Homo sapiens: one gene and its partners. The protein of the gene in region 5 interacts with the protein of the main gene of each other region in a biochemical or structural test. Each region holds a gene or a part of one and is shown on either strand. Other genes may lie near its edges.

Region 1 (2,385 bases), on a different chromosome or scaffold from region 5:
AGCAGAGGGCACTGAATGGACATGGAGGAGAAAGACATTTCTCTAGTTTCCAATATGCTCCCCACTGTGGTTTCAATCTCCCGAATGGGCCTGAACTAACACTTTTAAGATAAAATCATTTTGAAGAAACATTTGTATACACTTTTTACTTGAATTATAAGTTTTTTAGGAACATTAATAACTTAATAACTCTTAAGTTATAAACTCTTAAGTTTTTGTTTTTTGTTTTTTTAAGACAAGGTCTCACTCTGTGGCCCAGGCTGGAGTGCAGTGGCCTGATCACAGCTCACTGCTGCCTCAACCCCCCAGGCTCAAGTGCTCCTCCCACCTCAGCCTCCAAGTAGCTGGGACTACAGGTATGTGCCACCACACCAGACTAATTTTTTTTTTTTTTTAGAGACAGGGTTTCACCATGTTGCCCAGGCTGGTTTCAAACTCCTGGAATTAAGCGATCTGCCCGCCGCCGTGGCCTCCCTAAGTGCTGGAATTACAGGCATGAACCACCATACCCAACCTAGGTTCTTACCTACAACAGGTCTTTTAACCTAAGAGACTTTATGCATCAGGTCTCTCCCCTAGAACAAACATTTTAAAATTATCTTTTGTTTATGTAACATCTTTTAATGGCCAATACTCAGATTTTACCTGCCTCACAGGTCAAAAAGAGATCGAGGCTGGGCAGAGAGGCTCTTAACTATAATACCAGCACTTTGTGAGGCCAAGGCGGGTGGACAGCTTGAGCCCAGGAGTTAAGAGACCAGCCTGGGCAACATGTCAAAAACCCATCTCTACAAAAAATTTAAAAATCAGCTGGGTATGGTGGCAAGGGCCTGTAGTCCCAGCTACTTAGGAGGCTGAGGTAGGAGGATCACCCGAGCCCAGGAGGTTGAGGCTGCAGTGAGCTTTGATTGCATCACTGCACTCCAGCATGGGTGACAGAGAACAAAAAAAAACCCAGAGTGAAGACCCATCTTTTCTTTTGATAAGTTTTTTCCTCTGTTGTATGATCCCTTCTAAATATATTCCTATCCCTTATTCCATCTACCCTACAAAATTAGGATCTCATTTTAGTTCTACTTGCTCTGAGCATAGCTAGTCTAGGTGCCTGGCTTAATATGTAAAATTCTTAAAGTTTCATTTGGAAAACTTTTCAAACTATACAACAGGGAAGAGAGTCATAATTGCTCTATTTGAGGAAGGTAAAACTGCCACCTTTCTAGCTTTATCAGTTAGCATACCTGGATGACCTCCTAAAGATAAATGACCTGTTCCAATAGAACCCATTCTCCATACACAAGTCCTGATGAACCTAAATTGAAACTGACCCCCTCCTATCCTGAATCACTTATTAAGCTTCTTGAGGGTATGGATCTTTTAATTAAAATAACTCGTCTCTGTTAGGTGCTTAAAATGTGCCAGGCACTACACTAAATGCCTTACATTGTGTTATATAACTCTCTATAACTACTTCACGGTGGCTCACACCTGTAATCCTAGCACTTTGGGAGGCCAAGGCGGGTGGATCACCTGAGATCAGGAGTTTGAGACCAGCCTGGCCAACATGGTGAAACCCTGTCTCTACTAAAAATACAAAAATTATCTGGGCATGGTGGCACATGCCTGTAATCCCAGCTACTTGGGAGGATGAGGCAGGAGAATCACTTGAACCCGGGAGGCAGAGGTTGCAGTAAGCCGAGATTGCGCCACTGCACTCCAGCCTGGGCAACAGAGTAAGACTCCGTCTCAAAAAAAAAAGAAGAAGAAAAAAGCCATGCCTGACTGACTCCATAACCCACATCTTAATCATTTCTGACTTTGTCTTCTAATGCCTAACACACAATAGGTGCTCTTAAGTGAATACATGAGCTGATATATGTGCTTTGAGAAAAAAAGGCAAGGATCTTCATAGCTGTTAAGTGACACAGAGTTATAAGCAAAATGAATGTAGAGAAAGAACTGAGGGTCCAAAATATTTAGAAACAAAATGTTTTCTTAAGCCTCATTAGGTCCTATGCAATAAGATATATTAATGTATATAAAAGTTGCTACTATTCAAACTAAGTCTTAATCCAACTTATTCAAAAAGTTCAAAATCAAACAGACTTACCTCTAAACAACTGTCAATTGCTCCCTGCCAATTTGACATCTTCAGTTTACAAGCACCAATATTCAGTACACAGCTTAAAGCTATAGGTTGCAGCTTGGCTCTATCTGCTGTCTCAATAACAGCCTTTGAACTGTCCACGTATCTGCAGAATGCATTAATAAAAGCAGTATGAAAGACCACATAAACAGGAATTACTCTTCTCTATGTCCAGAAGTGTTATGTCATTTCTGATATAAAAAGCTCTAAAAATGCTATTAATAATCTTAATGATCACACTT
Region 2 (3,500 bases), on a different chromosome or scaffold from region 5:
GAGACCATCCTGGCTAACACGGTGGAACCCCATCTCTACTAAAAAACAGAAAAAATTAGCTGGGCATGGTGGCGGGTACCTGTAGTCCCAGCTACTCGGGAGGCTGAGGCAGGAGAATGGCATGAACCCGGGAGGCGGAGCTTGCATTGAGTGGAGATCACACCACTGCACTCCAGCCTGGGCGACAGAGCAAGACTCCGTCTCGAAAAAAAAAAAAAAAAAAATCCATTGACCTGGAATATAACATGCTGGGATTCGAAAAAGAGACACAGAAGAAAAAGAACAGTAAATACCATATATATGAATATCAGATTTTGGTAAAATAGAAATAGTACTTGTCTTCTGTGTGTCCTACTCAATTTATTAATAAATGCATAAAAGGAAACAAAATAGGGTGTACCTTGAAGTTAGATTAAATGAAAATTAGATGGGGCATTGAAAGGTAGTGAGCAGCCACCCTTCTGAACCTTCTATTGGAATTTACCTGACTGCTGAGCAGAGAAGAGCTTATCTATTTTCCAAAGGCTTCCAGCTCAAATTGGGTTTCAATGACTTTTAACAAGTTAATTAACCTCTGTGCACCTCATTTTCTTACTCTGTAAAATGGACATAGTCACATCTACATCACTGGCTTGTTGGGAGATGTGAAATCACAGAATCTAGTGCATGTCTGGGCACATAGTATATACTCAGCTAAGCATTCTCCCTCCTGATCTGGTAAAGAAACAGCTCTCTCATCTTCAAATCCTGGATTCGGTAGGGAACCAATATGTTAGGGGCTTAAAAATTTTCTCAGAATTCCTCAAACTCAGAGATGGGTCTGGCCCATCTCAAAGGTGCCGATGGGCACTAAGAAGGGTGGGGGCTGCTCTTGTGTAAAGTTCCTAGATTGATTCAACCAATATGTCTCTCCCTCTCATTCACTGGCTTGCTCACTCCCTACAGTGCAGGAGGGGACGGCTCCCTGGAGAATGTGACCACCTTACCTAGTAAGTAACCATCAGGGGCTTGAATCTGTCTACTGTTCCACCCATCTGGCCCCTTGGCTTCCCGAAAGTGCCTCCCAGGTAAGCAGCAAATGACATCTGCCTTATGGCCCAGCATTTAAGTAGGAGACAGGAGGCTATGAAAAAGCAGCCGAGGCAGGTAAAATAAACACCAGATTTAGAGCCTGAAGATCTGAGTTCAATCCCTGGTGCTTCAATCCCTGGTGCTGGGTTCAATCTCCGATGTGCTTGTCAGGTGACCTAGGGCAAGTTACCCGCTATTTTTAGCCTCAGGCTTTTCCAACAGGCCCAGGAGGTGCTGAGACAAATTAGGTAGTGACCCTTCAATGCACTGTGAATTGTATTAATACAATTTAATACAAGAGTGAGAGGCTCTTGCCACCCTGGCCCACCTAGTCATCAGGTCATGTCAACTTAGGGTGGTCCCAGCTTATGTCCAGGACACACACTGCCTCCCTGCCTCTCCCCAGGAAGCATGAGGATGATAACACAGCCCACTTTGGGGACCTAGGTCCCACAGTACCAGAGAAGCTATTCTGGCTTTCTGTTCTGAGCCGTCTGCATCCCATTCACCTTCTCTTCCAGATATCCTTCGGGAGTTTAACAGAAACCTCACAGGCTACGCCGTGGGCACGGGTGATGCCAATGACACGAATGCATTCCTCAATCAAGCTGTTCCCGGAGCAAAGGCTGAGTATGGCATTTGGGGAGGGAGGGAGCCTGCAGAGCAGGGAGTGGAATGTGGATAGTACCCTTTAAGACCATGGGGCTGGCCTCTATGTGCAAAGGGGCACTTAGCCACTTGTGAGGCTCAGGCTGCCCTCTTCCCTGCTGCCCCTGTGACGAAGGTTGTAATAGGCCAGAGAGGCTGTGGCCTTGGAGAGATGCGATGCCCCTATAGGTTCAACTCCTGACCTTGCCTTCATGTGCAGCATGTTCTCATAATTGGACGAATCGACTAACCTTATCCAATGTTTACAACTCACCAAGGCACAACAGTGCTAGAGAGATCCACTCCCCGCAGAACCTCACAAGTGGCAATTTCCCAAAAAGATCAGAGAGGGCCAACCAAATGGATGGGGCAAGCCTTCTGGCCCTAGAGGCATCTGGAGCAAAGAGTCATGTCCCCTCCCTAGCCCCATTATGGAGCTAACAAGAAATGGAATGGAGAAGCCCAGAGGTACCCAAAGAAGAGCAACTGCCCAGCCTCCTGGGGTGGGCTCCAAAGGGGCCCCCACCCTGCTCCTAGAGGCCCCAGCAGCCTAGGTCTTCTTGCTCTATGCAGCTCCTGGCTCAGCCATCTGAGCCTCTGTCACATGTCATCTTCTTGCTCAGGCCCACACCTTCTGGTTGAGGGGTGTGGCCCCCAGACCCACTCCCTCAGCCTGGAAAGACTCTTGGTAATAGAAACAGCTGGGGACAGATGGTCCCACCACCGTGTCCTAGGAGATCACCTTGCTATGGATCCATCCCACCCAGGTCTATAACGGGGCCCTGAACAAGTGGAAGTGGGGAGCACAGACGCCTGAAATCTATTCCTTCCATAAATTATAATTTTGGCCTTTTTTTAGATAGAGTCTCATTCTATCACTCAGGCTGGAATGCAGTGGCACAATCTCTGCTCACGGTAACCTCCGCCTCCCAGGTTCAAGTGATTCTTGTGCCTCAGCCTCCGAGTAGCTGGGATTACAGGCTTCTACCATCACGCCCAGCTAATTTTTGTATTTTTAGTAGAGATAGGATTTCACCTGTTGGCCAGGCTGGTCTCAAACTCCTGACCTCAAGTGATCCACCCACCTTGCCTCCCAAAGTACTTGGATTACAGGCATGAGCCACTGCACCTGGCCTTTTTTTGTTTTTAAGATGGGGTTTCACTCTGTCACCTAGGCTGAGTGCTATGGCATGATCTCAGTTCACTGCAACCTTCACCTCCCAGGTTTAAGCAATCATCCCACCTCAGCCTCCCTAGTAGTTGGGACTACAGGCATGTACCACTATACCTGGCTAATTTTTCTGTAATTTTTGTAGAGATGGGGTTTTACCATGTTGCCCAGGTTGGTCTCAACCTCCTGGACTCAAGCAATCCACCCACCTCAGCCTCCCAAAGTGCTGGGATTACAGGCGTGAGCCACCAGGCCTGCCACCTTCCATAAATTATAAACCCAAGCATGTGTAGAGCACATATGATTCCCTACCTCTTTTTGAAAGAACCATTTAGATAAGTTTACAAACAAAAGAATATACGTAAGAGAAAAATCGCAGCCATTGGAGGAAATAAAGAGGAAGCCTGTGTGTCGATATGAACATTTTTACGGTTATTATGTTTGAGCATCAAACTCAGCTTCCTGGCAGCCAGAGTGAAAAGAGGAAGCATGCTAGAAGTTTCATAGGTCTAATTTTAGGATCTAAACTAGTCTTCCAAAGGAGATGAATGGTCTCTTAGCATGGAATCCTAAAGGCCCTTTTGCATGTGGAGTCCCAGAAAGGTGACCA
Region 3 (3,500 bases), about 130 Mb from region 5:
CAGTGAGCCGAGATCACGCCACTGCACTCCAGCCTGGTGACAGAGTGAGACTCTGCCTCAAAAAAAAAAAAAAAAAAAAATTGGCCAGGCGTGGTGGCTCATGCCTGTAATACTAGCACTTTGGGAGGCTGAGGAAGGCGGATCACCTGAAGTCAGGAGTTTGAGACCAGCCTGACCAACATGGAGAAACCCTGTCTCTACTAAAAATACAAAATTAGCTAGGCGTGGTGGCGTGGGCCTGTAATCCCAGTTACTCGTGAGGCCGAGGCAGGAGAATCACTTGAACCCGGGAGGCAGAGGTTGTGATGAGCCGAGATTGCACCATTGCACTCCAGTCTGGGCAACGAGAGTGAAACTCCGTCTCAAAAAAGAAAAAAATATATATACAAAAATTAGCCAGGCGTGGTGGCATGTGCCTGTAATCCCAGCTACTCAGGAGGCTGAGGCAGGAGAATTGCCTGAACCTGCGGAGCGGAGGTTGCAGTGAGCCGAGATCACACCACTGCCCTCCAGTCTGAGCGATAGAGTGAGACTCCATCTCGGGAAAGAAAAAAAAAAAAAAAAAAAAAAGAACAGGCTTTTGGACATGGCTGCCTAGGTTCATTTTGGGCAGTGTGTTTCAACTAAGTTTATCACAATATTGATTACCCCTTGACTGAGACCTCTCATGTGTCCTTTGACTTTTTTTTAATGGGACAGGGTCTCACTCTGTCACCCAAGCTGGAGTGCAGTGGTGTGATCTTGGCTCACTGCAACCTTTGCCTCCCAGGTTCAAGCGATTCTAGTGCCTCAGCCTCCTGAGTAGCTGGGATTACAGACACACCAAACCTGGCTCATTTTTTTTGTATTTTTAGTAGAGACAGGGTTTCACCATGTTGGCCAGGCTGGTCTTGAGCTCCTGACCTCAAATGATCCACCCACCTTGGCCTCCCAAAGTGCTGGGATTACAGGCATGAGCCACCGCACCCAGCCTTGACTTTTATTAAAAGGAGAGGTGGAAGGCTAGGGAGTGCTTACTAAGACCAGACAAAATGTCTGAGCAATACACACAATGCAAAACTAAAGGCTTTTTTGGTCCATGTACTGGATTGGCAGTTTCCTCTCCAGCCTCATAGTCCCAAAGCCTTCACTAGTCCATCCATCTAGTATGAATTCTATTCATTCGTCACTGCCATTCCAGAATTGATGCTCACAGCTGCTTATCTTAGGAGATCTGGCCAATGTACTCCTCCTGCATGTCTTTCCGGAGTCTTGTTCAGGACACAATCCTTGGCCCTTGCTACAAGTAGAAGCTGCAGCTGCCTTCCAACACACCTTCTATGTCAGCACACAGGGCTGCAGGAGCTGGTCCCCTTCTTCTGTTTTAATTTTTGTGTTTTCCTCATTAGACATGACAAGGACCACACCGGAGTTAACTATTTTGGTCACCTTACATTTTCTTTTTTCTTTTTTTTTTTTTCTGAGATGGAGTTTCGCTCTCATCGCCCAGGCTGGAGTATGGTGGCGCGATCTCGGCTCACTGCAATCTCCACCTCCTGGGTTCAAGCAATTCTTGTGCCTCAACCTCCTGAGTAGCTGGGACTATAGGTGTGCATACCAGCATACCCAGATAATTTTTGTATTTTAGTAGAGATGGGGTTTTCCCATGTTGGCCAGGCTGGTCTCGAACTCTTGACCTCAAGTGATCCACTCGCCTCAGCTTTCCAAAGTGCTAGGATTACAGGTATGAGCCACAGCACCCAGCTTACCTTACATTTTCAAACCACCTCTACACTTTAGTTCAGGCAAACAGTTTCTCCTTCCCAGGGTCCCCTTCCTCAAACATTTTTGGTCTAGAGAAATCCACTCATCCTCCAAGGCTTCCCGCTCCTTAGGTGTCCCCTTGGCCTCTGGGCCCACCCTCTACAAGACTACACCACCACTCCCAGCTCCCCAGCGCGTCGGATATCCACGCACACCAGTCACAGCACCGGCTGCACCACACTGTCGGGTATGCTTAGCCTCTCCTGCCCAGCCTGTGAGCCCTTCACAGCAGGGACCCAGGCTTTTCATCTTTCTCCTCCCTCTGAAGCTGCCACCATACCTCCTGGGGGATGACTTCCACACCCACCAGGCTGGCCTTAGGATACCAAAGCCACCCATAACGTCCTTAAGGCTGACGCCTCCTACTGCCCCCACTACCTCCCCAGCTAGGATTTGGCTCTGACTGGGATCAGAGGTGCACACCACCACACCCAGCTCATTTCTTTGTATTTTTAGTAGAGACGGGGTTTCAACATGTTGGTCAGGTCTTGAACTCCTGACCTCAAATGACCCGCCCACCTCAGCCTCCCAAAGTGCTGGGATTACAGGTGTGAGCCACCGCGCCCGGCCTTGACTTATTTAAAGAGAGACTTGGCTATGACTCTGCCGGGTCAGTGGTCACACTGGTTCCCAGGCCAAGTGGTCAGTATCCAACCCAAAGCCCACTACCAACCATCTTCACACCCTTTGTAAGTCCCCAGAACTCTAACCTTGGCTCGGGGCTCCCTTCTGAACCTCTCTGCCATCCAGCTCTGTGGCCCTGCCTGGACTCACCCTCTCTTGCCTAGCCCAGCTGCCTCCCTGGGCTCCCTGCCTCTTCACTCACGCCCTTCTCTCAGGCCCCTGAGTTAGGGGCCACAGAGGTCTCCCCCAGACTCTTCTAGCATCAACAGTCAGAATGCCTCTGCTTGACCAGCTTGGTAGTTGAGGGCCCCGCCCCCTGACAAACACATTGCATTTACCCTATTACCACCTTCCAGACCTTCACAGCCAGTCACTAGCACTTGGCTTAGGGGGAGGAGGATTGGCTGGCGAGGGATAGCTGAGAAATAGGCCTGTTTCTCCACCTTTGAACTAGGTGCTCCTGAAGACAGAGCTGTCTCCCTTGCCAGACCCAAGGCCCTTGAAGTCTGGGCTGCCTCCCTCAGCCAAGCCTGGGTTCTGCACAGGGAGGTGTCCCCACTCACCTTTCAGCGTTGCCTTCTTCAGCACCTTCATAGCATACAGGTGCCCACTGTCAGGCCGGGTGACTTTCCGCACCAGGAAGACCTGAGAAGGCAGAGCAGGAAGCAGGGCAGAAGATGGGAGAGGTCTGAGTCCAGGCTGACCTCTATCTTCTCTGAGCCCCAAGCTGACCTTTTTGCTCTCCCTGGGTACCAAGGTGACCTCTGATCCTTTGGGCCCCTAGGTGACCCTTGACCCCCACCTCTAACATGACGAGTGTTGCCTTCACAGCTATGGGCTCATGACTCACTTTGCCAAAGGATCCCTGGCCCAGAACCTTGAGGAGCTCGAAATGGGATGGATCAGCCTTCTCAGAGCCAGCCTTGACGTGGTGCGTGATGGAGATCTCCTTGAGGACGCCCTCATCCTGATGGAGGGACAGAGCTGGTGGGCATGGTGGGCCCCATCCAGGCAGCAGGAGGCTCCCCTGCCCAAGTCCATTCCCACCAGACCACAGCAGATGGAACCTAAAG
Region 4 (3,500 bases), on a different chromosome or scaffold from region 5:
ACTCCACGCCTCTGTCACACAGAAGCCCCGCCCTTCACCGACCACTCTCTGGTCTCTGGGCCCTGGCGCCTTTCACAGGTGGCGTCATTCTTACAAGCACAGCAGCCCCTTCCAGTGCCGCCCTGTCCTGAGATGACCTCCTCTTACACACAGCACCCCCAACCTTCCCCAGGTCTGCATTCCCTGCCCCAGGCCCCTTTCAGCAAGACACCAGGGTAGGGGCCCCAGGGCAGAGGCCTTCATTGTACAGGGGTGAGTGGTGACCCTCGTCCAACCTCATCCTGCAGCTTCAAAGACTTCTATGAGCTGGAGCCTCATAAGTTCCAGAATAAGACCAACGGCATCACCCCTCGGCGCTGGCTGGTTCTGTGTAACCCCGGGCTGGCAGAGGTCATTGCTGAGGTGAGAGGCCACCGTAGGGCCAGTAGAGTCAACATGGGTCCCTGCAGGGATCAGCTGGGTATGGTCGTGTAGGTGGTTCACTGCATCAGGGCTCCCAGCTGAAGGCTGAAATCCCTCCTGCACTGTGTTCCCCAAGCCTCGCATCCACCTGGAGGAGGGACACCATCTTAATTGCATGAGGGTGCTCTGTGTGCTAATGGAGGCCCTGGCTGTGGAGGTGAACACAGCAGAGGGAGTCATCCATGGGTCACATCTGAAGTGAGCCTGGAAGGGGGCAGATATCTGGTAGGGAAGGCGCAAGGTCATGCTGGCGTTAGGAAAAGGCCAGGAAGCCAGGAAGGCCTGCTGGGGTCAGGTGGGGTCAGCCATCAGAGCTCAAGGACGGGAGGGGAGGAAGGTGCATGGATGCCCCGTGCCCCATCTGGGCGGCTGGAGGAGGAGGGGCTGGGAGGGCCCCCAGAGCAGCCTGCTGGGTGAAGGGGGCTTGGCTGACCTGGAAATGGCCCCTTCTGTGTTGGGAGGAGGGAGGACATGGGGATGGGCTTGGCTGAGAGCCGTCTTCCCATAGCGCATCGGGGAGGACTTCATCTCTGACCTGGACCAGCTGCGCAAACTGCTCTCCTTTGTGGATGATGAAGCTTTCATTCGGGATGTGGCCAAAGTGAAGCAGGTGGGGAGAGATGCAATGTGGGACAGCTGTGCTGTGTGGAGAGCGCTGGAGGGGCCAGATGTCTGGGTCAGGCGTGGCAAATAGAGCTCATCTCTCCTGCCAGCCCAGGCCGTTGGTGGAAGTTGCCTGGAGTCTGTGGTGGGAAGGCATCATCTGACCTCACATGAACAGTGCTGACATTGATTAGCAATGTCTGCCCTGGTACAGGAGTGGACAGAAGTAGCCAGTGAGCCTCCTGGTAGCCATCCTCCTGGGGCTGACTGGAGTGTGGACTGTAGGATTTCCTGAGGCTGTGGCCTGTTGGTGAGCCCTTCCCCGTCTCTGCCTCCAGGAAAACAAGTTGAAGTTTGCTGCCTACCTAGAGAGGGAATACAAAGTCCACATCAACCCCAACTCACTCTTCGACATCCAGGTGAAGCGGATTCACGAATATAAACGACAGCTCCTCAACTGCCTCCATGTCATCACCCTGTACAACCGTGAGTGGCAGCCACTCTACCCTGTCTCTCAGTGCTCCCCCGTGTTCCTGCGGCATAGTACATATTGCCCAACCAACATCTCCTTTGGACTTGGGACTACTCTTGGGACATGGAATTATCCCCATTTCACAGATGGGCAAACTGAGGCTAAGAGAGCATAGCAAGTGATTGTTCGAGTCAGGCCTACGGTGTCCCAGCCCAGCCTCTGTCAGGAGCTACTACCCAGAGGGAAAGGTAGGCCCACTGGATCCCTCTCGTTTCTCCACAGGCATCAAGAGGGAGCCCAATAAGTTTTTTGTGCCTCGGACTGTGATGATTGGAGGGAAGGTGAGAAGCCAGGCTCCAGCCCTGGGCTCCCGTCCTTTGATATATCCAGGTTGAGGTCAGCCCAGCTGAGTTGCAGGATAGGGGGTGGGGGGCCAGGCAGTAGAGCTGACCCCAGACTTTGTCCCCTCAGGCTGCACCTGGGTACCACATGGCCAAGATGATCATCAGACTCGTCACAGCCATCGGGGATGTGGTCAACCATGACCCGGCAGTGGGTGACCGCCTCCGTGTCATCTTCCTGGAGAACTACCGAGTCTCACTGGCCGAGAAAGGTGGGTGCTGCCAACAGGGACCCTAGGGAGGCTCTGACTAGTTCAGTCTCAGGAAGAGGTATCAGTCGTCTCTTCCTGGGATACTTGTACTTGAAAGAAGAATCTGGAGAGGGCAATGCTTAAACCATGAGGAGGCCAGGCGCAGTGGCCCATGCCTGTAATCCCAGCACTTTGGGAGGCCAAGGTGGGTGGATCACCTGAGGTCAGGAGTTCGAGACCAGCCTGGCCAACATGGTGAAACCCCGTCTCTACTAAAAATACAAAAATTAGCTGGGCGTGATGGCAGGTGCCTATAATCCCAGCTACTTGGGAGGCTGAAGCAGGAGAATCACTTGAACCTGGGAGGCGGAGGTTGCAGTGAGCCGAGATCACGCCATTGCACTTCAGCCTGGGCAACAAAAGCAAAACTCCGTCTCAAAAAACAAGAGGAAACAAAACAAAGCAAAAACCCCATGAGGATGCCCTCTAATGGTGGAATTTCAGGCAGTACAGGGTGAAATTACCTTCAAATCTGCAACAGAGGTGGGGAAATCCAGGTTGGACCTAGATGGTCAAGAATCAACAAGAGGTAGAGGGCAGTGGGGGTGCGGTGTGAGAGGGAGGCTTGGCTGGTGAAGACTGGGAGTTTGGGGTGGGGCGACTCTGAGTCCAGCTATGCCTGGGGCCAGCCTAATCTGAGAGTCCCCAGCTGGTGTGAGGGTCTTCCCTGAGTTGACTTGTCCCCCTGCTGCCACCCCACAGTGATCCCAGCTGCAGACCTCTCTGAGCAGATCTCCACTGCGGGCACTGAAGCCTCAGGCACCGGCAACATGAAGTTCATGCTCAACGGGGCTCTGACCATTGGCACCATGGACGGGGCCAATGTGGAGATGGCAGAAGAGGCGGGAGAGGAAAACTTCTTCATCTTTGGCATGCGGGTGGAGGATGTGGATAAGCTTGACCAAAGAGGGTATGGGGGTCAGGGTTCACGGGCAAAAGACACCCAGGTGTGGCTGCTGGAGAGTGGTGCTGGGAGCAAGCGGCACGTCTGGAAAGACTGGTCCAGGCCCAGCAAGGTCTTGGTCATGGCCAGCAGGATTCTGGGAAACTTTAGAGGGCGCTTACAGCAAATAAGGTTAATGAAATTGGAAAAGAAAGAAGTAATATAGAACTGAAGGAAAAGGAAGAGAATATTATATCAACCCTAAGAGATAATATTGTTTGGGAAATGGAAGTAAAAAAATCCTTGCTCTACGCCGGGTGCGGTGGCTCACACCTGTAATCCCAGCACTTTGGGAGGCCAAGGCGGGCGGATCACAAGGTCAAGAGATCCAGACCATCCTGGCTAACACGGTGAAACCCCATCTCTAC
Region 5 (4,218 bases):
CTTCTTTACTTTGGGGCCCTGGTTAGCCTTAGCAGCCTAGTTTTCTACATCCTTCATGCCAGTTGAATGAAACTACTGACATGCTCCACATTCTTCTTTCTCCCATGCTTTTGTTCATTCAGTTACCTCCTCCTAAAATGTCTGCATTTACCCAGATAATCTTCCAATGGAAATCCATGGTTCAAGTGCCACCTCTTCAGGAAAGCCATCTGACTTCAATCAGGTTAATAATCTCTCATAACCCTTTCTGGTACATCTGTTAAGGCTCTGTGTATTTCCTGGAGTTCATGGTTTACTTTTAAGTGTCAATCTTTCCCTTCTAAGTCTGTGTGTCTTATTATTGATGAATCTACACAGGGCCTAACACTTAACAGGTGATCAATAAACCAGGGCATTTTGACTTGACCCAGGAGGAGTAGGGGAGCCTGGAAAAACCCAGGAGAGAAGCCTGGGAAAGGAAAGAAAGAGGCTAGGCTGAGCTGGAGGTGGGGTGGGGAGATAGCAAGGGGGTGTCCACCCCATTCCCCCAACCTTCACCCACTCCACTCCCACTCCACCACTCTATGCTCACATCCAGGAAGCCAGAGAGCTCCGTCTGCAGCAGCTCTTTCAGCTCCTTCTTGCTCAGCTTGTACTTGTCCCCCTCTTTGCCCGAGTGGGCGTGGAACACGTTGATGAGGGTCTCCATCGCCGTCTCCAGCTCAGAGCCCATTGCAGCAGTGCACCTACCCACCCCCATCATGGAAGTGAGCTGAGGACCAGGCCCGGAGTACCTGGGGTCTAGGTGAGGGGAACCCTCAGGACTGGCCCTGGCTGACAGCTCAAATAGCTGTGGGATTAGAGCCCTACTGCAATTGATCTTTCCCTGAGATTTTACAATGTGAGGGAAACCCCAAGAGACCTAAGTGCAGGCCTGTTCTCTGTGTCCCTCAGTCTGTACCCCAGCCAGAGGGAATCAGGGTTGGGGCATGGAGAGAGAGCAGTTGGAGCTGGGCTGGCTCCAGAGGCCTGTGGTAGATGTCTGCAGTGGCTGCCCAGGCAGGGATTGAGGAGGGTGGGGCAGGCAGGGGTGGTCACAGGACTGGGCCATGCTTCCTCTGGCTCTATTTTTACCCTGGACCTTGCCTGTCTAGCATAGCCAAGCTCTGCTGTTGAGGGTGGTGGGCTGGGGTGTCCACTACAGCCTTCCTTCTGCTGCCCACCCCTAGCAAGGAGTCAGTCTGGTACCCTCGGTCAGCCTGGTAGAGGGGATGGCAGCCCCAGTGGGTGGCGTACGCCTTCTGGGGGAGGGAGGTCTCACTGACTCTGAGTTTCCTGTCAGCAGCTGGGGGCCCCTTTTGGTCCTTCAACTCTGTTCTCTCCTGAACATGTCATTTTGGCTTCTTTGGGATATGCTCCCATTGCCTCTGCAAAATTATCCCTTCCATCTGGTGGGTGGCAGAAGGGGAGAGAGGAATGTCTGAGCCTTTTCCTTGGAGCCAGAGTTCCCAGGGAGTGGGAGAGGAGACCTGCAGGCGTTGTCCCTGCAACTGCTCACTCCTGGTTGATTCGGGGATAGTGGGAGCAAGGGGAATGGGGCTGCTGTGTGTTGGGGGAGAGAAAGGGCTGAAAGCATGCGGTCCTTTGAGTTCAAGGGGCTGGGAGAGAGTAGGAGAAGAAAGGAGAAAGGAGTGGTCTGTTGAGAGAGAAGACTGCCAAGCCGGGGGGCCTCTTTCCCTTGGCCCTGGGACAGTCTGGCCTTCCACAACCCCAGAGGGGGCAGCTCAGGTGTCTCGGATCAGATGTCCCCATCCTTCCCCAGGCCTAGGGGGCTGGACAATGGCCCCTGATCGAATGACATCCCAGTTCTTCAATGGGGCCCTTGTGAGTGTCATCTGAACTCCGGACCTGAGAAGCAGTTGTCACAGAGACATGGGGGAGATGGAACCCAAGCTGTGGCTGATGAGGGGATAAGGGGTGCTTGAGGGAGGGGTGCTGGTAGCTTGATTACCTGCTCCATGCCAGAGGGGCAGCTGGAGGTCACCTGGAGCCCTAAAGCAGCCTGGGATTTTACGTGGTGGCAGTTCTGAGAGGACTTGGGGGCAGGGGAGATGGGGAAACAAAGAGGTAAGAATGGGGGGAAAGAGGAGTCAAGAGGTCTGGGCCAAAAATGGGAGGAGGAGAAAGGGGAGGTCCTGTGGAGGTCGAGTTGGGAAGGGGCACAGCACCCTACATCTCTGCTTCCCCATATCATGGGAGCTTTGCCCTGCCACCCCCAGACTCCCCCGGGACCTGAGCTCTTGGCAAGGCAGGGTGGGGGTGGCAGAGACTAAGGCTGGCAGGAGAGGTGGGGGCAGAAACAGCTGTTGTATCTGCTCTCTTCTTACCCCACAGGAGGCGAGGCAGGGGAGGGCTGGGACCCTTCCCAACACCTGGGAGACAGAGGGGGCCTTGGCAGGGACTTGAGGGCTCCCTGTGGGAGGGCCAGGCGGTCAGGAAGCTCATGGTGGGTTCCCCACTGGCTTCCTCCTTTGCTGAGCTGCCAGCTCTCTCTCCGACCTTCAGTTCATTTGTCTCTCATCACCACCTTCCAAACCCTGTCTCCCCCAAATCCCAAACTGCCCTCACCCTGACTGACTCCTCCCAGATCCTCAGTGCTCCACAGTGCTATGGTCCCCAGCCTCTTGGAGCCCTTCTGAAGACCCCTCTCCCTGAAGCTGGCAGGCCAGGGACTAGCCCAGTGGGGCAGGGTACTCACGGTTGGCCTGGGCCTGAGGTGGGAGCAGGTTCTGGACAGATGGCCAAGGTTGCAAATGTGGCTGCTGGAGCTGTGTGTGGAGACCTGTCTTCAACAGTCCCTCCCCCGCTGACCCCCCCACCGACTCCACCCCTTCACAGACGAACACCCTGTGGGGCAAGGGGCCAGGAGCAGACAGAGGCGCCCTCTGTCTCCTGGGCTGGAACAGGCGGCCCTTGTCTCTTTCCCAGCCTTGCTTGCCCCGTTCCTTTCTCTCCAGGCAGCAGTGGATGGTGCAGGGGAAAGAGGTGGGAAGGAGGTCCTGGGAGGGACACTGGATGTCTTACCCCAAGCTGGGCCTTGCAGTACCTGTGGCTGGCTGTGCTGGTTGAGCCCGGTAAGGGGGGAATTCTGCTGAGGGGGTCTTAGTCTGTGGCTCCTCCATGGGGCCTCACTGAGAGGACCCTCAGTGAGAAACTTAGTCTTGGGAGTCTGAGAACCCACAGAGGGATTTCAATCCAGGACTCTTCTCTGGGGGTCTCAACCTGGATCCCCCTCTGTGTGTGGGGCCTCAGCCTGGGGTTCTCTGAGGGATCTTGGTCTGTAGCATCCTTTGTGGGATCTCATTCCAAGGGGCCTCTGTGTGTGTCTCAGATTGGGCCTCTCAGTGTTGAGCTCCCTTGATTGGTTGCCTCCCTCTTCCCCCCTCAGCATACACACTCCTGATTAGACATGGGTATGGTGGCAGCAGCCCCCAGTATTGAGAGGACTAGGACCCTGGGACCCCTGCCGAACGAGATCTGTCCAGGCAGCTCCTCTCCCTGACCAAGTGGGGGCGCTCGTGTGGCTGGCAGGGAGCCCGGGTCCAGACCTGAGGGCTCAGGGCAAGCGGCCTGATTGGGCTGTCTCTGGTCTTCAGAATCGACCACGGAAATTTGACACCTCCGGGCTTGGAAGCAGCTCTCTCCTCCTTCCCCGCTGCTTATAAACCTCAGCCCTGAGGCTCCAGCTCACTCTACCCCATCTCCTTGCCGGGTGAGTCTCATGGCTGACCCTGGAGGGAGGCTGGAGATCATTTTTTCTTCCTGGGCTCCCAGGTCCCTCCCCCAGAGCCAGCTCAGACAGGAATTCAGGAAGGAGCTTTGGATGATCGAGCAACAGCGCGTGCAGGAGTGTGTGACGGGGTGGACAGAAAAGAGAATGCCTCTTCCAGCCCCACCCGCCGCACCCCAGGGGGTTGTGAGTGCCTGTACTAAACCCGTCCTGGAGCAGGGAGTCAGAGACGCCCCGTTCCAGGACCCTTGTCACCGGGAGACAGGAGCGGGGAGGATCTGTGGGGTCCTGGGTTCAGCACTCTGCCCTGCTGCCGCTGAGGAGAGGTAAGGGTGGAGCGGGGCAGAGAAAATGGGTCTGTTCAGACGGAGCCAGCTCTGACCACAGGGGACATTTGCCAGACCCTGTGCTTCTCTGCTGGGAGGAGCGGTTAGAGTGTGTGTGGGCGG
Region 6 (3,500 bases), about 90 Mb from region 5:
ACTTACATAGCAAGATCTCCGCACTTCCCTACTCCACATACTCATTTCCTGCTTAAAACTGCCCAGATTAGCATTATCCTCAGCCACTCTCAGTGGGAACCTGGTATTTGGAACATGGCCCAACACCCCTTACATTCTAGGAAGAGTGGGGGCAGTTCCCAGGCTCTTTTCCTGACTTTGTGACCTGGGACACCTGAAAGGTTTGTTGTAGACAGGAAATAAGGCCATGCATGTGGCAGTAACTTGTAAAATAGAAAACATGAGGTACATTTTTAGTGCAGTTGCTCCTTGCAGAGTATGAAACAAAAATACGGAGTTGGGGGGCAGTGAGGGGAGCTTTCTCTTAAACATGCCAAATTCTCTCACCTATGGTTCTGCCTGGAACATTCCTCTCTGCTCTTCACCTTCAGGTCTGGTTTTAGTTGTCACTTCCCTACTCCCTCTGCTGGAACCAGGCACGCCTCCTTTATGCTTTCCTAGCCTCCTTTGCTCACCTCCATCCCAGTGCTGACAGCACCTTGTGGCAGTTCTCTGCTTGTCCGTAACCCACCTAGCCTCCAACACAAACCTTCACCTTAAGTCCCAAGCATGTGAGGACTGGGCCTGTATTGTTCTCTGCTGCAACCTACGAGATCACCATGAAGTTTCACCAATCAGCTCATTTTGAGCTCCCTGCCAGTTTACAATCCTCACACTTGTCGGTTTAGCCCCCAAATGGCTATGACACCATGCAGATTAAGCCCTCCGGACTCACACAATGTAGTAGCCATTTCAATTCACTCTTGAGCAACATTTCAATTCACTTGTGAGCACATTGGAGTACAACATACAGGACTAATATTTGGTCAGAAGGACTTTTGTCACTTACCTCATAACTCTACATGTGGTGACCTGGTTAGAAAATACTTATTGGGCTGAATCAATCACACTCAAAGCAGCCAAGAACAAATTCATATATTAGTTGCCAAAATAAGCCATATGGTATACATGGATATTAAAACAAAATTTCACCTTCCCTGCATGCCCTTAATGGCAGTTTAAAAAGAAGAAACTTAAATCTGAGAAGATTCTTGTATAATATAGATGGTCCTATCAACCCAGCATGGTATAGATTGGTATTTCCCAAAATTCTTCTGTTTGGGGTCCTTTTACAAACTCTCAGTACTCATATATTAAAAGCTCTGAAACTCCTACTTAACATTGCCCAAGCCAGTTTCTCCATGCTATTAACCAGCATATTATAACAATCCCCAGAACTACTTGCTCTGGGATATATTTATTTATGGAAAAGACCAACCAGATGAAATATCAGAAGACTGGAGTCCCTGTTCCAACACCATTAGCATACTGGACAAGTCAACCAAATATTTCTGTCCTACCACCTATCGCATTTCATCCTTCAAAAACACTTTGGGGTACTCATAGAGAAAAAAAGAACATCTTTCCAATATGAAAACATAATTTTCCAAGTGTTTCTGATTCATGATTAAATCTTTATTGGCATGACTTAATTAGCATTCCCCACTGTGTTAATTCAGGGCTGTCTTTATGCCTTGGGGAATCAGCTCAGTGGTGATTTGGAGAAGCTATGGGAAGGAGGACTTCCAACAGCTGAAGTTTAAAAAACTAAACAAAACAAAACCCAGCTTACATCCATCCGCGTATCCCAACACTAAGCACAGCCTTCTCACCCTTTCCAAACAACTCCCTATGCTGCCCCCTTGTGATTTCTTTCCCCTTTGAGGACCCCAGGGGAGAAAAGTCTTCTCCGCAGTCCTCCCAACTGAAGCCCTCGGCTAGCCATTACTTACTTAACACACTCAGGAGCCATTTTTCAAAGGTGGATCCCAACTGTGAGCACAGCTTCAAAGTCAGCAGAATAACTGGCTATGTCTGTGTGGGCCTCAAGGGAACTTGGAGGAGAATAAAGGGATCAGTTCAAACTTTCCTGCTTCACTTTCTTAGAAGTGTAGCTCACTCAAATCAATCTGCTGAAAGCTCTTCTAAAGTCTAAAGGGGTCCAGACTACACCACTGTGACATAAAAATTATTTTGAGCCAGTCATTTAAAAATAGGCTTTTTACTAAACTCCTTCATCTGTCTTAAAAGCAGTGTGCCCCAAAGGAACTCTGGAGTTTCACAACCAGGGAAGATCGACTCATTACCATAACTAAATAGACACTGGCATAAAACTACCACATCTCCTATCTAGTCTCTTAAGGGCTGATTTATCTCTCCTAAAGTCGTGGTTTCCAGCAAATGCTCTTCTCCTCTTCCGCCTTCCCCTACTGAGATGATGTATAGGCCCCCAAGTCTAACTGCCTCCTGTCACATTTTTCTGTAAACTCCCACAAATGTCTTTTTGTTGCTCATTTGTCTTTTACATTTAATTTGCAAGCCCCCAGTATATAACCTAGGAGGGTAGATGAAAAGTTTTCCCTACCCTAGAGTCCAAGAGAGAAAAAAATTATTGTTAAATATTTGATCAATGTTGATTACACATCTTATTATCCCAAGATAAATTTATAATAGAATAATACTTATAATCTATATGCAAAATGTCATAGTATATTGGGACCCTTTGTACGATAAAATGTATGCTACATTTATTTACCTGAGGCATAATTTTATAACATTAAATGATTATATGTGTTTATCCTTTCCATCTAACTCTTCCTCTGTCTGGAAGTCTTTTCACGGATATCTGCATGGCTCACTCCTTCACTTCATTCAGGTCTCTGCTCTCATGAGGTTTATCAGACATCCCAATTGCTGCACTAAAAAGAGCAGCCCATCCTCTAATGCTGTCCCCTTTACTGGGTTTTATTTTTCTTCAGAGAACTTATCTTCATTTGACACGTTTATCATCTGTCAGGCTCAACGAGAACCCCACAGCTCTGTAGAGCAGAAACTTTGTTCAATTCACTGTTGTATCCGTAGTACCGAGAACCTAATAGGTGCTCAATAAATATTTATTGAATGAGTCACTCTTTCCAAAACAGTAGAGCACTCTTCCCTGTTATCTTGTTTACAAAAACAAAACAAACCCTCTATCTCAGAAAGGGAGAACGTTTTTCTTTTTCTTCTACAAAATTTCATGAGCATTAGATTTGATTAAAAAAGAAAAAGGAAAAAGATGTTTCACCAAGAGCATTAGTGAAGCCAAGAAAGAAAAAGTCCCAAGCAAGCTGATTTAAGTATTTTATGTAACAAAGATTGTTTAGTGACTAAGTGTCCGGCTCTAAAAAAGAGTCCTGCCTATTCTCTCTTTCTCACTTCTCTCGGCAGGTCCCCTTCCTGAAGGGTAGCCCCATCTTCTATCGCACACTATCCGCTCTTCAAGACATAATTGGTTTTAGGTGCAGGCACCTCTTCTTTCCCAATCCAAAATGTTCTCTCTCTCGCTGAGCTCAGCATGTTTTCTAATTCTGTTCTTTGTATGTCTATGTGTTTCTTCTGTCTTATCTCCCCCAAAAGATTGTATGCTCCTGGATGGAAAG
Region 7 (3,500 bases), on a different chromosome or scaffold from region 5:
ACAGAGACCCAGAGAGATGGGGACAGAGACCCAGAGAGAGAGGGACAGAGACCCAGAGAGAGAGGGACAGAGACCCAGAGAGATGGGGACAGAGACCCAGAGAGAGAGGGACAGAGACCCAGAGACATGGGACAGAGACCCAGAGAGAGAGGGACAGAGACCCAGAGACATGGGACAGAGACCCAGAGAGATGGGACAGAGACCCAGAGAGAGAGGGACAGAGACCCAGAGAGACGGGGACAGAGACCCAGAGAGACGGGGACAAAGACCCAGAGAGAGAGGGACAGAGACCCAGAGAGAGAGGGACAGAGACCCAGAGAGATGGCGACAGAGACCCAGAGAGAGAGGGACAGAGACCCAGAGAGATGGGGACAGAAACCCAGAGTAAAGGGGAAACAGAGACCCGGAGAGACGGGGACAGAGACCCAGAGAGAGAGGGACAGAGACCCAGAGAGATGGGGACAGAAACCCAGAGTAAAGGGGAAACAGAGACCCGGAGAGACGGGGACAGAGACCCAGAGAGAGAGGGACAGAGACCCAGAGAGAGAGGGACAGAGACCCAGAGAGAGAGGGACAGAGACCCAGAGAGAGAGGGACAGAGACCCAGAGACATGGGACAGAGACCCAGAGAGATGGCGACAGAGACCCAGAGAGAGAGGGACAGAGACCCAGAGAGAGAGGGACAGAGACCCAGAGAGAGAGGGACAGAGACCCAGAGAGATGGGGACAGAAACCCAGAGTAAAGGGGAAACAGAGACCCGGAGAGACGGGGACAGAGACCCGGAGAAACAGGGACAGAGACCCAGAGAGACAAGGACAGAGACCCAGAGAAAAGGGGAAACAGAGACCCGGAGAGACAGGGACGGAGACCCGGAGAAACAGACAGAGACCCAGAGAGATGGGGACAGAGACCCAGAGAGAGGGGGAAACAGACCCAGAGAGAGGAAGACAGAGACCCAGAGAGACGGGGACAGAGACACAGAGAAAAGGGGAAACAGAGGCCCAGAGAGACAGAGACAGAGACCCAGAGAGACAGAGACAGAGACCCAGAGAGACGGGGACAGAGACACAGAGAAAAGCGGAAACACAGACCCAAAGAGATGAGGACAGTGACCCACAGAAAAGGGGAAACAGAGACCCGGAGAGACGGGGACAGAGACCCAGAGAGAGAGGGGGACAGAGACCCAGAGAGAGAGGGGGACAGAGACCCAGAGAGAGAGGGGGACAGAGACCCAGAGAGAGAGGGGGACAGAGACCCAGAGAGAGAGGGGGACAGAGACCCAGAGAGAGAGGGGGACAGAGACCCAGAGAGAGAGGGGGACAGAGACCCAGAGAGAGAGGGGGACAGAGACCCAGAGAGAGAGGGACACGGAGACAGAGGGAGACAGAGACAAAGAGACGCAGAGAGAACGGGACCCCCTCAGAGAGAAGATAGGTGGGGCGGAGGGGACAAAGAGAGCCAAGACAGGGATGGGCGGAGGGGCCAGGGTTCAGGGCGGGCGTCCCGGCTCCACTCTGGAGCCCCGAGCATGCAGCCCCCTGGTGCCCGGGCCCCGCCCACAGAGGCCCGCCTCACATTGCTGTGCTTGCGGCCGGCCCCCGTGAAGTCCAGCTCTCCGTAGGCATCGGTGGGCTTCTCCGTGGTGTGTGCATCGCTGTCCCACACGGTCACCACGGCTGCCCCGAAGGCATCCTCCATGGCCACTGCGGGGTGGGCGGTCCGGGGGCGCCCACACTGGCACAAGGTCCCTCTGGGGGTGCGAGGGCGGAGCGTGAACCCAGGGCTGCCCCCCGACCCCAGCACCCTGTCAGCGTGTTCATGCTCCTGTAGAGGGGGCTGTCGACACTGAGTCCACACCCACAGAGGCAGGCAGAGTCCACGCTGCCCCTGGCCCTGGCTCTGACGGCCTCGGGGAGAGACTGGAGCCGAGGACGGTCCCCTTTCCCCACGGGAAGGAAGCCAGTGAGTCCAGAAAGCCTGAGCAGGAAGAAGCAGGTCACTGTCACCTGAGGAGCCTCAAGTGGGAAGGCAGAGGGCCACTGGGGGTATCCTTGCTGTGCCCTGTGCCCCCATCCAAACACATGACGTTCAACACGAGAAAGAACATCCAGCGGGTAACTCAGGGAGAGCCCGCATGCTCGGGGCTGACGCGGCTGTGTGACTTTGGGCGAGCGGCTTCACCTCTCTGAGCCTAAATTTCCTCCTCTAATGAAAAGACAATAATAGCGCGGCCTACTCCACGGAGCTATGAGGAGCCAGGGAAAGAACGCCGTGTTTCCTGAAATGAGGCTCGCATACCAGTCCCAGCCAGAGGCAACGCGACACGAACTTCACACGGAGCTTAAAATAACCTTGAATAACGCAGTGAGAAAGTCATTCCTTTTTCAGTTCTCCTGACGACTGTCAAGGAGAGAGGCTCAGCCGGGTGCTAGAATATTTTTGAATGCCTAACCCTTTGCTACTCTTTTGAACAAGAAAAGCAGGCCTCGGGCTCAAAAAATGGAGCTGGCAACAGCCATCTAGCGAGTAGGGAAACACCTTTGTTTGCTTTTCATTGTCTTTGGCTTCTGTGTGGCTTGTTTCTTCCTCTCTGTGCCAAATGGAACAGGTTTCCATTTGGAAAGTTTCCACATATAAAACTTTCCCCCACCTAAAGAAATGCACAAGTCTCTCTTGCTTTCTAAAGGTGATTGGCACCTGAGTAAGTAACAGGGGTTTGGAGAATGAGAAATTCATTTGAAAATGTAGGGTCGGGTATGATGGCTCATGCCTGTAATCCTAGCACTTTGGGAGGCTGGGGCCAGAGGATCACCTGAACCCAGGAGTTCGAGACCAGCTGTGCAATATAGTCAGACCCTGTCTCTAAAAATAAATAAATAAATAAAATAAAATAAAATAAAATTAGCCAGGTGTGGCAGCATGTGCTTAGGAGGCTGAGGCAGGAGGATCACTTCAGCCTGGGAGATCAAGGCTGCAGTGATGCAGAGAGCTGTGACCACGCCACTGCACTCCAACCTGGGCAACAGAGTGAGACCCTGTTCAAAAAAAAGAAAAGAAGGAAAGAAAAGCAAGCAAGCAAGCAAGCAAGCAAGCAAGCAAGCAAGCAAGAGGCCGGGCGCAGTGGCTCATGCCTGTAATCCCAGCACTTTGGGAGGCTGAGGCGGGTGGATCATCTGAGGTCAAGAGTTTGAGACCAGACTGGCCAACATGGTGAAACACTGTCTGTACTAAAAAAAATACAAAAATTAGCTGGTCGTGGTGGCGGGTGCCTGTAATCCCAGCTACTCAGAAGGCTGAGGCAGGAGAATTGGTTGAACCCAGGAGGCAGAAGTTGCAGTGAGCCATCACACTATTGTACTCCAGCCTGGGAGACAAGAGCGAAACTCCATCTCAAAAAAAAAAAAAAAAAAAAAAAAAAAAAAAAAACTAAGGAAAGAAAGGAAGGAGGGAGGGAGAGAGACAGAGAGGGAGGAAGGAAAGGAAGGAAGGAAGGAAGGGA

The links.
Region 1: the proteins of S100A1 (region 5) and PPID form a complex in vitro, tested with the Homo sapiens proteins (one study listed by BioGRID).
Region 2: the proteins of S100A1 (region 5) and PLB1 form a complex in vitro, tested with the Homo sapiens proteins (one study listed by BioGRID).
Region 3: the proteins of S100A1 (region 5) and RPS6KA1 interact in a biophysical measurement, tested with the Homo sapiens proteins (one large-scale study listed by IntAct).
Region 4: the proteins of S100A1 (region 5) and PYGM form a complex in vitro, tested with the Homo sapiens proteins (one study listed by BioGRID).
Region 6: the proteins of S100A1 (region 5) and PGM1 interact in far-western blotting, tested with the Homo sapiens proteins (one study listed by BioGRID).
Region 7: the proteins of S100A1 (region 5) and TRPM4 interact in a biophysical measurement, tested with the Homo sapiens proteins (one large-scale study listed by IntAct).

Annotation. Positions count from the first base shown.
Region 1 is NC_000004.12:158,711,012-158,713,396, forward strand, and holds part of PPID (peptidyl-prolyl cis-trans isomerase D), read right to left. Parts: intron 2,250-2,385; coding exon 2,108-2,249; intron 1-2,107. UniProt on the Homo sapiens protein: PPIase that catalyzes the cis-trans isomerization of proline imidic peptide bonds in oligopeptides and may therefore assist protein folding. Proposed to act as a co-chaperone in HSP90 complexes such as in unligated steroid receptors heterocomplexes.
Region 2 is NC_000002.12:28,597,060-28,600,559, forward strand, and holds part of PLB1 (phospholipase B1, membrane-associated isoform 1 precursor), read left to right. Parts: intron 1-945; coding exon 946-989; intron 990-1,592; coding exon 1,593-1,701; intron 1,702-3,500. UniProt on the Homo sapiens protein: Calcium-independent membrane-associated phospholipase that catalyzes complete diacylation of phospholipids by hydrolyzing both sn-1 and sn-2 fatty acyl chains attached to the glycerol backbone (phospholipase B activity).
Region 3 is NC_000001.11:26,546,761-26,550,260, reverse strand, and holds part of RPS6KA1 (ribosomal protein S6 kinase alpha-1), read right to left. Parts: intron 3,395-3,500; coding exon 3,278-3,394; intron 3,073-3,277; coding exon 2,991-3,072; intron 1-2,990. UniProt on the Homo sapiens protein: Serine/threonine-protein kinase that acts downstream of ERK (MAPK1/ERK2 and MAPK3/ERK1) signaling and mediates mitogenic and stress-induced activation of the transcription factors CREB1, ETV1/ER81 and NR4A1/NUR77, regulates translation through RPS6 and EIF4B phosphorylation, and mediates cellular proliferation, survival, and differentiation by modulating mTOR signaling and repressing pro-apoptotic function of BAD and DAPK1.
Region 4 is NC_000011.10:64,749,975-64,753,474, reverse strand, and holds part of PYGM (glycogen phosphorylase, muscle form), read left to right. Parts: intron 1-287; coding exon 288-402; intron 403-970; coding exon 971-1,072; intron 1,073-1,403; coding exon 1,404-1,551; intron 1,552-1,819; coding exon 1,820-1,878; intron 1,879-2,008; coding exon 2,009-2,150; intron 2,151-2,891; coding exon 2,892-3,099; intron 3,100-3,500. UniProt on the Homo sapiens protein: Allosteric enzyme that catalyzes the rate-limiting step in glycogen catabolism, the phosphorolytic cleavage of glycogen to produce glucose-1-phosphate, and plays a central role in maintaining cellular and organismal glucose homeostasis.
Region 5 is NC_000001.11:153,627,016-153,631,233, reverse strand, and holds the start of S100A1 (protein S100-A1), read right to left. Parts: upstream 2,801-4,218; 5' UTR 2,738-2,800; intron 726-2,737; 5' UTR 713-725; coding exon 572-712; intron 224-571; coding exon of another isoform or gene 156-223; exon of another isoform or gene 1-155. Other genes in the region: S100A13 (protein S100-A13), read left to right, coding at 156-223, 2,997-3,113, 3,636-3,704. UniProt on the Homo sapiens protein: Small calcium binding protein that plays important roles in several biological processes such as Ca(2+) homeostasis, chondrocyte biology and cardiomyocyte regulation.
Region 6 is NC_000001.11:63,599,911-63,603,410, reverse strand, and holds part of PGM1 (phosphoglucomutase-1), read right to left. Parts: intron 1-3,500. UniProt on the Homo sapiens protein: Catalyzes the reversible isomerization of alpha-D-glucose 1-phosphate to alpha-D-glucose 6-phosphate. The mechanism proceeds via the intermediate compound alpha-D-glucose 1,6-bisphosphate.
Region 7 is NC_000019.10:49,164,292-49,167,791, reverse strand, and holds part of TRPM4 (transient receptor potential cation channel subfamily M member 4), read right to left. Parts: intron 1,752-3,500; coding exon 1,577-1,751; intron 1,571-1,576; exon of another isoform or gene 614-1,570; coding exon of another isoform or gene 1-613. UniProt on the Homo sapiens protein: Calcium-activated selective cation channel that mediates membrane depolarization. While it is activated by increase in intracellular Ca(2+), it is impermeable to it.